Linked DNA regions of Homo sapiens. The protein of the gene in region 1 purifies or fractionates together with the protein of each later gene. This does not show direct contact. Each region holds a gene or a part of one and is shown on either strand. Other genes may lie near its edges.

Evidence for each region.
Region 2: the proteins of ZNF597 (region 1) and NSMCE4A purify together in Homo sapiens (affinity purification with mass spectrometry; 4 studies listed by BioGRID and IntAct, with this or other methods). This does not show direct contact.
Region 3: the proteins of ZNF597 (region 1) and TASOR2 purify together in Homo sapiens (affinity purification with mass spectrometry; 4 studies listed by BioGRID and IntAct, with this or other methods). This does not show direct contact.

What each region holds. Positions count from the first base shown.
Region 1 is NC_000016.10:3,436,961-3,440,612, reverse strand, and holds part of ZNF597 (zinc finger protein 597), read left to right. Parts: intron 1-3,074; coding exon 3,075-3,652. UniProt on the Homo sapiens protein: May be involved in transcriptional regulation.
Region 2 is NC_000010.11:121,968,638-121,972,289, reverse strand, and holds part of NSMCE4A (non-structural maintenance of chromosomes element 4 homolog A), read left to right. Parts: intron 1-1,220; coding exon 1,221-1,351; intron 1,352-3,652. UniProt on the Homo sapiens protein: Component of the SMC5-SMC6 complex, a complex involved in DNA double-strand breaks by homologous recombination. The complex may promote sister chromatid homologous recombination by recruiting the SMC1-SMC3 cohesin complex to double-strand breaks.
Region 3 is NC_000010.11:5,736,782-5,740,433, forward strand, and holds part of TASOR2 (protein TASOR 2), read left to right. Parts: intron 1-2,836; coding exon 2,837-3,652.

The DNA.
Region 1 (3,652 bases):
GCCCAGGCTGGAGTGCAGTGGCACGATCTCTGCTCACTGCAAACCGCGCCTCCCAGGTTCACGCCATTCTCCTGCCTCAGCCTCCCGAGTAGCTGGGACTACAGCCGCCTGCCACCATGCCCAGCTAATTTTTTGTATTTTTAGTAGAGACAGGGTTTCACCGTGTTAGCCAGGATGGTCTCAATCTCCTGACCTTGTGATCACCCGCCTCGGCCTCCCAAAGTGCTGGGATTACAGGCATGAGCCACTGAGCCCGGCCGAGATGATCTCTTAAAGACAAAAATTCAGTCTAGTACAGTGCCTGTGGTTTAGTACAAGAGATGGCAGTATTTGGTAATCTTTCACAAACATTTGTTGCAGTTTACAATTTTACTTGGGAAATCCCATTAGTATCGATCACTATCATTTGCTAAAGACTGGAGATTGATTTACTCTTAAGGGGTGCTATGCCTTACTCACCTAAGGGGAACCATACACAGATGGACTCCTGTGCCTGACTAGATTTTATTTCTGACTAGGATTGAGTATCTAAACTATCTATTCTAAGTAGTTATTCTAAATAGTTTGGAATAGTTGAGATACTCAATCCTAGTCAGAAAAAAATAACTAGAGTAACTAGTTATTCTGAATAACTCATATTTTGTTTCTTCCACTTCTCTCTTCATCATGTTCATGTTGTCTTCTGTCTGCGTAAATGTATGGAGTATATTTATAATGGTTATTTAAACTTTTTTTTCTTGCTAGTTTTAACATTGATGTCATTTCTGGGTCTGTTTCTATTGATTGATTTGTCTTCTAGTTATGGGTTATATTTTCTATATTTTCTTTACTTCCTGGGTAAATTTTGGTCGGATGTTAGATTAAGAATTTTATGTTGTTGGACCCGGGATTTCGTTGTATTTTTAAAAATATTTTGGACTTTGTTGTGGGAGGCAGTTAAGTTACTTGGAGTCAGTTTGACTGTTTCAAGGTGTGCTTTTTTTTTTTGCTTTGTTAGGATAGGTTCAGATCAACCTTTCTGCTAGGACTTATTTGAGTTACTGCTAAGGCAGTTTTTTTCTGTGGACGTTGCTGCTCAATGTCTTATGTCTTTCCACTTTGGCTGGAGGCAACATGAACTGGTTATTGCTCTGTTATTCCTTTTAGGTGGTTCTTTCCACGGCATTGGGTAGTTTCTTCATGCACTTGTAGATTACTACTCAGCCAAAGTTGTGGGGTTATTTTTTTTTTGATACAGTATCTTGATCTGTCACCCAGGCTGGAGTGCAGTGGCACAATCACGGCTCACTGCAGCCCTGACCTCCCAGGCTCAAGCAGTCCTCCCACCTCAGCCTCCCAAGTAGCTGGGACTACAGGCATGCACTACCATGCTTGTCTTTTTTTGTTGTTTTTTTTTTGTAGGGATGGGGCTTTGCCATGTTGCCCAGGCTGGTCTCGAGCTCCGTGGCTCAAGCAATTCTCCCACCTCAGCCTCCCAATGTGCTGGGATTACAGGTTTGAGCCACTGTACCTAGCCTCAGGAAAGTCTTAAGGGGACCCCATGTAGATGACCTGAGCTCTCTTTCTGAACAGCTGCCTCTTTGCTGTTTTGCTTTCAAATTCTAGCTGCCTTGGCATCCCTGATCTCTGAACTCAGTCCCCTCAAATCAGCAAAACCACTTGGTACTGTTTGGATTCCCATGAACTATACTGCAGCCCTTTCTAGTCAGTGAGTTGGGAAAACTGTAGAACTTTGTTTCTCTGGAAAGAAAAGTTCCTTTTGTATTGATATATTTGCTTTATAACTGAAGAATACTTGGAAAATATTACACAGGAATGTTAGTTTTGTCAGCCATTCTTGTAAGTAGATTGGCTGTTATTTTCATGCAGTACACACAGCCTTCTACCTTGATCTTTCCTCAGTGAGGAGTAAAGAGATTTTGGAGAGTTCTCCTGGTGATAATAAAACTATTTCTGATAACCCGTGTGTTTCTTTGTTATGGAAGAAAAATGCTCACTTGATTGCTTTTTTTTCTTTTTTCTTTTTTAATTATTATTATTATTTTTTTTTGAGACAGAGTCTTGCTCTGTCGCCCAGGCTGGAGTGCAGTGGCGCGATCTCGGCTCACTGCAAGCTCCGCCTCCTGGGTTCACGCCATTCTCCTGCCTCAGCCTCCCGAGTAGCTGGGACGACAGGCGCAGGCCACCACGCCCAGCTAATTTTCTGTATTTTTTTTTAGTAGAGATGGGGTTTCACCGTGTTAGCCAGGATGGTCTTGATCTCCTGATCTCGTGATCCACCCGCCTCGGCCTCCCAAAGTGCTGGGATCACAGGTGTGAGCCACCGTGCCCAGCCTCTTTTTAAAAATTATTTTCTTTCCCACTCATTCTTGCTGTCATCTTTTTTTTTTTTTTTTAAGAAACAAGTTCTGGCTCTGTCACCTAGGCTGGAGTGCAATGGCACATCTCAAACTCCTGAGCTCAAGTGATCCTCCTGTCTCAGCCTCCTGAGTATCTAGGACTATAGGCATGTGCCACCATGCCTGGCTAATTTTTAAAAATTATTTTTTGTACAGATGGGGTCTCACTGTGTTGCCCAGACTGGTCTCAAACTCCTAGCCTCAAGTGATGCTCCCACCTCAGCTTCCCAAAGTGCTGAGATTACAGACGTGAGACACTGCCCAACCCCTCTCTTTGTTGATAAATATGAATCCTAATCTTTTTTCCAATTGTTAATTGTTCTGCTGTCACTTGAGATAGCTTCAAAAATGAAAGGCTCTTGAGGCCTAAATAGATTAGATGGAAAAGTTCACCTCTAGATAGCTGCTACTGAGATTGTCCTTAGTACCTATCCCACTGGACTCTGACTTAGTTATAGCTATTCTCTCCTTACCTTTGGATATTCACCCAAAACTGGATCTTCTGGGAGGCCAGGAGAGTCTGCTTGGTCCTGATTTTGTGTGGTTAGTGTCTGGGTTATAGAATAACCCTTCTAAGGTTTCCTGGTCCTGTTTGTAACTACCTTAGCTTACTTTTTCCCCAGTATCCCTTGAAGATATTGTCTATGTTTTGCTTTCTTTTGTTTTTATCAACAGGAGAGGAAGGCAAGCCTGAGATTAATCAGCAGTTAAGCCTAGAGTCTATGGAACTTGACGAGCTTGCCTTAGAAAAGTACCCCATTGCTGCACCCCTTGTCCCTTACCCAGAAAAATCCTCTGAGGATGGAGTTGGAAACCCTGAAGCGAAAATATTAAGTGGAACTCCCACTTACAAGAGAAGGGTCATCAGCCTTTTAGTTACCATTGAAAACCACACCCCATTAGTAGAACTCTCTGAATATTTAGGAACCAACACACTTTCTGAAATTCTTGATTCTCCCTGGGAAGGAGCCAAAAATGTGTACAAATGTCCTGAGTGTGACCAAAACTTCAGCGATCATTCATACCTAGTTTTGCATCAGAAAATTCATTCAGGAGAGAAAAAACATAAATGTGGTGACTGTGGAAAGATCTTCAATCATAGAGCCAACCTGAGGACACACAGGAGAATCCATACTGGTGAGAAACCTTATAAGTGTGCCAAGTGCAGTGCCAGCTTTCGCCAGCACTCTCATCTATCCCGACACATGAATAGCCACGTAAAGGAGAAGCCCTATACATGTAGCATATGTGGT
Region 2 (3,652 bases), on another chromosome or scaffold:
TGCAGTGGCATGATCTTGGCTCACTGCAACCTCTGCCCCCCCCAGGTTAAAGCTATTCTCCAGCTTCAGCCACCCGAGTAGCTGGGATTACAGGTGTGCACCACCATGCCCAGCTAATTTTTGATTCTTTAGTAGAGATGGGGTTTCACCACGTTGCCCAGGCTGGTCTCAAACTTTGGAGCTCAAAGTGATCCGCCTGCCTCGGCTTCCCAAAGTGTAGGGATTACAGGCATGAGCTGCTGTGCCCAGCCTGTTTCTGCATTAATTTAAATCTTTTTTTTCCATAGCTTTTCTTAAATCCCATGTCCTCTGTCAAGCCTTTTTTGAGTATCCGTCCTCGGGTCACTACCTGCTACCTGTAGACTGTTCATTTGGGTGGCTTTGCTGGGGTTGCCTGTGAAGCCATACAGAGGCATGAGCCTCCTAGTGCCAGCCTAGCACATGCCATGATTTTGGTTAGCAACTTTAGCAACTTACCTATTGCTTAGCAGCTTACCTATTGCTGTTCACAAACCACCATGCCAAGCACAGGGCCCTACATGTAGTGGGAATTTGATTTTCCTTACGTCAGCACACATGATCATCGTGATTAGGATGGAGGGAAAAGTGAGTATTAGACATGACGGGTTTTGCTCAACTGGAGTTATTTAAGAGATTGTGATTCAGCTAACAGTAGGAGAACTAGACAGAAAGCTGGCTTTTAGGAAGACTGGTCAGCTTTCATTAGAGATTTTGGTGAGTTGGGCACAGGAGAAAGTTTTTTTTTGTTTTTGTTTTTGTTTTGAGACAGCCTCTTGCTCTGACACCCAGGCTGGAGTGCAGTGGCGCGATCTTGGCTTACTGCAAGCTCTGCCTCCCGGGTTCACGCCATTCTGCCTCAGCCTCCCAAGTAGCTGGGACTACAGGCGCCCGCCACCACGCCCTGCTAATTTTTTGTATTTTTAGTAGAGCTGGGGTTTCACCGTGTTAGCCAGGATGGTCTCGATCTCCTGACCTCGTGATCCGCCCGCCTTGGCCTCCCAAAGTGCTGGGATTACAGGCTTGAGCCACCGCACCTGGCCAGGAGCACGTTTTAGAAGGAGATGTGTCAGTTGCCTATTGAGATTTTTTTTTTTTTTTAGTCCAGTGGGAAATCCTGGTAAGTAGTTGGAAATGTAGGGAAAAAGTCTATGGATAATGTGTATTTTGTAATGTGAATATTTTCTTTCTTTTTTGAATAGTGTCCCGAGCAAGAGAAGCAGTCCTGGATGCCCACTTTCTTGTTTTGGCTTCAGATTTGGGCAAAGAGAAAGCAAAGCAGCTGCGCTCAGACCTGAGCTCCTTTGACATGTTAAGATATGTTGAAACTCTAGTAAGTTCAAAGCTACAGACTCTGAATAAAAAATGTTCTGTTATATATTATAATTATTTACTGTGCTCATATCCATATGCAGATGATTTCACTTCATTCTTCTTTTTTGGTCTCAGATTCCTCTGTAGAGATCTTACCAATTTAAACAGACGAAAGTAGAACCATGTGGTGGAATCTTGGGTGGGGGCTTGGAGTAAAAATCTCGTAGCATTCTGTCTTAAGATGCTGGGTGCTATGGTCATTTGCCAATGGCCATTTTTCCTCTGTTCACTGGTGTTCTAGATCATTCTCAGTGACCTCAGACCTTTGTCCTGGGCTGGACAAAAGCCCACTCTGCGATGGCAGAGCTCAGCTGGAATTGAGTTAGGCCTGGCGAGAGGGCATGTTTTGGTCTGTCTTTGAGAATATTTCAAAACCATGTGAATATGATTGGGTTTTGCTTTTTTTTTTTTTTTTTTTTTTCCTTTGAGACAGAGTCTCGCTCTGTCGCCCAGGCTGGAGTGCAGTGGCGTGATCTCGGCTCACTGCAAGCTCTGCCTCCTGGGTTCACGCCATTCTCCTGTCTCAGCCTCCCAAGTAGCTGGGACTACAGGCGCCTGCCACCACGCCCGGCTAATTTTTTGTATTTTTAGTAGAGACGGGGTTTCATCATGTTAGCCAGGATGGTCTGGATCTCCTGATCTCGTGATCTGCCCGCCTTGGCTTCCCAAAGTGCTGGGATTACAGCCGTGAGCCACCTAGCCCAGCCAGGTTTTGCTTTTTTGGTTTTATGTTTTATTCACCTTTCTTTGTCTCTTGACAAGTTTGAATAGTGGTTACCTGCAATTCTAAAACTGTTCCTTGATGAATTTACCAAAAAAGAAAAAGCACACAGAGACTGACCTTGTATCTCACTTTGTTGTCTTTTTAAAAAATTCTATTCTGGCTGGGGGCAGTGGCTCACGCCTGTAATCCCAGCACTTTGGGAGGCTGAGGCGGGTGGATCACCTGAGGTCAGAAGTTTCAGACCAGCCTGGCCACCATGGTGAAAGCCCGTCTCTACTAAAAATAGAAAAATTAGCTGGGTGTGGTGGCAGGCGCCTGTAATCCCAGCTACTCGGGAGGCTAAGGCAGGATAATCCCTTGAACCCAGGAGGCAGAAGTTGCAGTGAGCCGAGATCGCGCCACTGCACTCCAGCCTGGGCTACAGAGTGAGACTGCACCTCAAAATCAATCAATCAATCAGTCAATCTGTCAATCTGAGCCAACCTCTGTCCTAGCACAGATAGCTGCACCTCAGTATGAATATTGCATTTCTAACTGGATGTTTATGTTAAATGGTTATTAAAATAATTTAGTACTATGAGATCTGATCAGATAATTTTTTTGTAAAGGCATGAGGCACCAGATTATTTCCAGTTTGTTTTTCAAACCTTTTCCTTTTTTTTTTTTTTTTTTAACTTTTTTTTATTGTGAAACATAATGCACTTAGGAAAGTGCACTGTAATATAGAGGTCAATAAAGTAACCATGTATTGGGTATTTCTTTAAAAATTACTTTATCAGGTTAAGCTCTATTTTTTTATTTTTTGAGACAGAGTCTTGCTCTTGTTGCCCAGGCTGGAGTGTTGCCCATGCTGGAGTGTTGCCCAGGCTGGAGTGCAGTGGCACGATCTCAGCTCACCGCAACCTCCACCTCCTGGGTTCAAGCGATTCTCCTGCCTCAGCCTCCCAAGAAGCTGGCATTACAGGTGCCTGTCCCCACGCCTGGCTAATTTTTAGTAGAGGTGGGGTTTCGCCATGTTGGCCAGGCTGGCCTCGAACTCCTGACTTCGTGATCCACCCGCCTGGACTTCCCAAAGTGCTGGGATTACAGGCATGAGCCACCGTGCCCGGCCAAGCTCTGTACTTTAAATAACATATCAAAATAAATTCTGGAAGTCTTAAAGCATTAAATATAAAACCTTAAATTAATAGTTGTCCAGTCTCTGGGTGGAGAAGACTTTCGTATGTATAGCATCAAATATAGACACTATAAGGAAAGATTGGTGGATTTCTCTGTCAGTTAAACAGACCAAAACTGCCACGTCTGCCTACAAGGGTGCAGTGGTAGTTCGGGCGGCAAGGGAATGGAGAAGAGCTGGCCATAGCGCTCTGACCAGGCTCTTGTAGCCTTTCTTTTCTTTAAAGTCTGATTGCCTTTAATAGGGTTAAGCTCCCTGAGGGTTTTGTGATTATTGTTTATATATGATATTGCCATCGTAATTGGATAACTTCTAGGCATTTTACAGTATAATGTAATAAAAATGTACTTTCATAAAAG
Region 3 (3,652 bases), on another chromosome or scaffold:
GATTTTTTTGTGGTGTGTGTGTATTTTTTTTGTTTTGTTTAACGGAGAGACTTCATTCTCTCCTATCTTTCTATGAGTTTTCTGTCTGGTTTTCCTGATTCTACTTTCTCCCTCATCTATTACTAGATGTTACTATCTCACAGAGAGTGAGAATTCAGAGAAAGAAATTGGATTGTTGTTTTGTTTTGTTTTGTTTTGAGATAGAATCTCACTCTGTCACCAGGCTGGAGTGCAGTAGCACGATCTCGGCTCACTGCAACCTCTGCCTCCCAGGTTCAAGCAGTTTTCCTGCCTCAGTCTCCCGAGTAGCTAGGACTACAGGTGCATGCCACCACGCCTGGCTAATTTTTGTATTTTTAGTAGAGATGGGGTTTAACCATTTTGGCCAGGATAGTCTCAACTTCTTGACCTCTTGACCTCATGCTCTGCCTGCCTCGGCCTCCCAAAGTGCTGGGATTACAGGTGTGAGCCACCACGCCCAGCCAGGTTTGTTTTTTTTAGTTTTTTTGTTTTTTTTTTCAACTTAAGCATACCCTGAGATTCTTTAAGTTTTTTCAGATTGTTTTATGACTGAAGATTTTTTTAAAAGCTCATCATGTCATTCAAAAACCCATATGCTGCAGTTTTGGCTTCCATACCAGATTTGAGCTCTTCTGCTTGTCCCTCTCGGGAGTTTATGGTGTGGCTGTACCTCCCCTCTCTGCGTTGTGCCTCTGCTGTTGCCACCGTGCTCCTTCCCCTGCGGCCCTCTGTGCCTCCCCCAGGCAACCTCTGCCCTTCAGGGGCCTGCAGCTAGATTTATCCCCACAGGGAGGCGTTTTCTCATGTTGTGACTGTAACTAATCTCTCACTTCTTTGGGATATTTGAGAACATTCTATAATTTAATTCATACTGTTTTCAATTCATCTGACATGTCTTGGTCCAATCTTTCCAATTTGTAAACATGAGAATAGGTAACATCTTGTGTTCCTAGCAGTGTCATTTGCATTCTTTGTACTGAATTGGCTTCAGATGTTTATTGACAAATTGATTAATGCGAGGAGGTATATAATTGCATACTGGCAGAAAAGTGAGCCCAGAAAATTTAAAGTTTCAAAATGTGTGTTCAAATACAGGCTGATTTGTATTGCAAATGTCTGTAGGTATTGTGCAGCCACATTCCAAGTTAACATTTTTGAATGACTACATTTAAATCTCTGAATTTTTTTCTTAAGCACCTATGTTAATCATTTTACTTCTTATACTTAAAATATCAACGTTTAAGAAGGCAGATGAAACATAGCCACATTGACCTCAGTTTGCAAATTACTGATTTAAATTAGAATCAAATGATAATTTTGAAGTCAGACAGTCCTTTTGTTAATGAAACATGATTTTCTGTCCTTTTTATTCACTGAACTTTTTTTTAATGTAGTTCCTTTGGCATTGTCTTATGTATGTCTTAAATAGAAATTATGGGTGGTGTTTTTTTAATTGGGAACCTGTAACACGTTAATAACTGGGTGATTTATGTGAGACTATAATATGTTAAACTACCATTTTTCTTTATTTTAATACAGTATCTTTTATATTAGGCCTTACTGGTAAGTAATATTTTGTGTAAGGGATAAGTAGATGGAGGCCATAATATTAACAAAGAATGAAATTAGCATCAGATCACAAAATTAATTTTATGTTTCCAGTATACCTGTGGGACTAACAAGACAATTATCTGCTTTGGGTCCTTTTCATCCACCTGTCCCCTTTGAGTTTGCTGTTTTAAATAAAAACTGGGCAGTCGTTGATCAGTTTAACCCTTTCCCCATGTATGTGCATGCCCTTGTCGTTCTAATTGATGACATCATAGGCTGGAGCTGTCTTCTCTTTAAATGTGTTACTCATTGGCCTTGGCTGGCAGGTTGTTAATTCATTTTGGACCTGCTACTATGATAAAGAGGAACATAGTTGGCTTTTCTGGTCATCTGTCTACCTGCAGCAGGGAATCATTGCCTAGCAGAGTTGTGAAGTTTATCCTTCATAATAACAGCATTTAGGAAGGAATAATGAATACGTTGAAAATACCAAGGGAAACCACTGGCAAATGTAAATGTTCTGATTAAGGGCATATGGATAGATTTGATTATCTGTAAAAGGGAACATTGTCAGTAGATTTGCTCTTTCTTGGATAATGTAAAAGGTCAATGTTTTTGGTAATGAAAGTAAAATTTTAAAAGGTAATGGAATTAATTGATGATTCTGAATACTCTTAGGACTTTTCTAATTTTTTATTTCTATCACATCATGTAATTAAAGATCAATATAGTTAAAATCATTTGAACTTAGGTAGTTTCTCTAATAAATCGCTTGTTCAGGGAAATGGTTCCTGAGAAAGTATGTTAGCAAACTCATACACACTTGAAACTTCTACATTCCTGTCCTTATTAGATTGTAAGCTCCCAAGGGCAGGACTCTCATCTTTTTTGGGTTTTTTTGTTTGTACATTTTTTGAGCTGAGCTGTATGTCTTCTGTGTAGATCAGTTCATATGTTTTTGAAGGATAATTTCTTTCTAAATTAATGTACACATTCCTTAAGACTTGTCCCTCTGGTTTAACACATTATAATCTGAGGGTTGAAAGAGACCTTAATCCAATAGAAAATTTTAATATGCAATATGTATAACATAAGTTTTATCTGAGGGTTGGAAGAGACCTTAATCTAATAGAAAATTTTAATATGCAATATATGTTACATAAGTTTTTCTCAGACATGTTGAATTAACCATCATAGTAATATGGCAGAGAGTTAATTCTATGACAAGCAAACATCTCTCTTTTTTTTTTCTTTTATACTGAAGTCAAAGGAGAAACTGCTTCAAAGCTTCAATCAGAAATTTCAAGAGGTTGTCAAGAAGATGGGATTAGCATAAATAGTGTTCAACCAGAAAATACCACAGCGGCTCACAATGATCTTCCTGAAAACTCCATCGTCAACTATGACTCCCAGGCCCTAAATATGTTAGCCGATCTAGCATTAAGCTCTGCTACTTCTTCCACACCAGTATCTGAGGCTAGAAATCTTCACTGTTCCTCTGAATTGCCACAAAATGATGTTTTGCTCTCTAAAGAAAATTCTTTGCGAGGTACATCTGACCATGAATATCATAGAGGAGTTAAAACTCAAAAAGGTGAATTACTACCTAACCCATCTTCTGATAGGAAGAGTAATTCTGGATCAGACTTAACAGTTAGCCAAGATGAAGAAAGCTTGGTTCCTTGTAGTCAGGCCCCTGCTAAAGCCCAGTCAGCACTTACTGAGGAAATGCTAGAATCTTCAGATGCAAGCCAAAGCTCTTCTGTTTCTGTGGAACATTCATATGCCCTGCTCCTTACAGAACATTCAAAGAAACATCTACAGGAGAGAGAGATACTAAGCCCTCTGTTTCCCAGGAATGGGACAAAAAGCCCTGAAGCAGCAACCCCAGTGGGGAAAGTCATGCCATTTCGGCATCAGCCCGGCCTTTTGCTTCAGCAAAAGCCTCCTGACGACCCCGTGGTGAAGCCCAAGGATCGACCACCGTCTGCCCGTGTGAAAAAATCTTCTTGCTCTCGTATAGTGCTTAGCTGTGATGACTCCGTTAAGATCACTTTCAAATGTGAAACAGAATATGCAT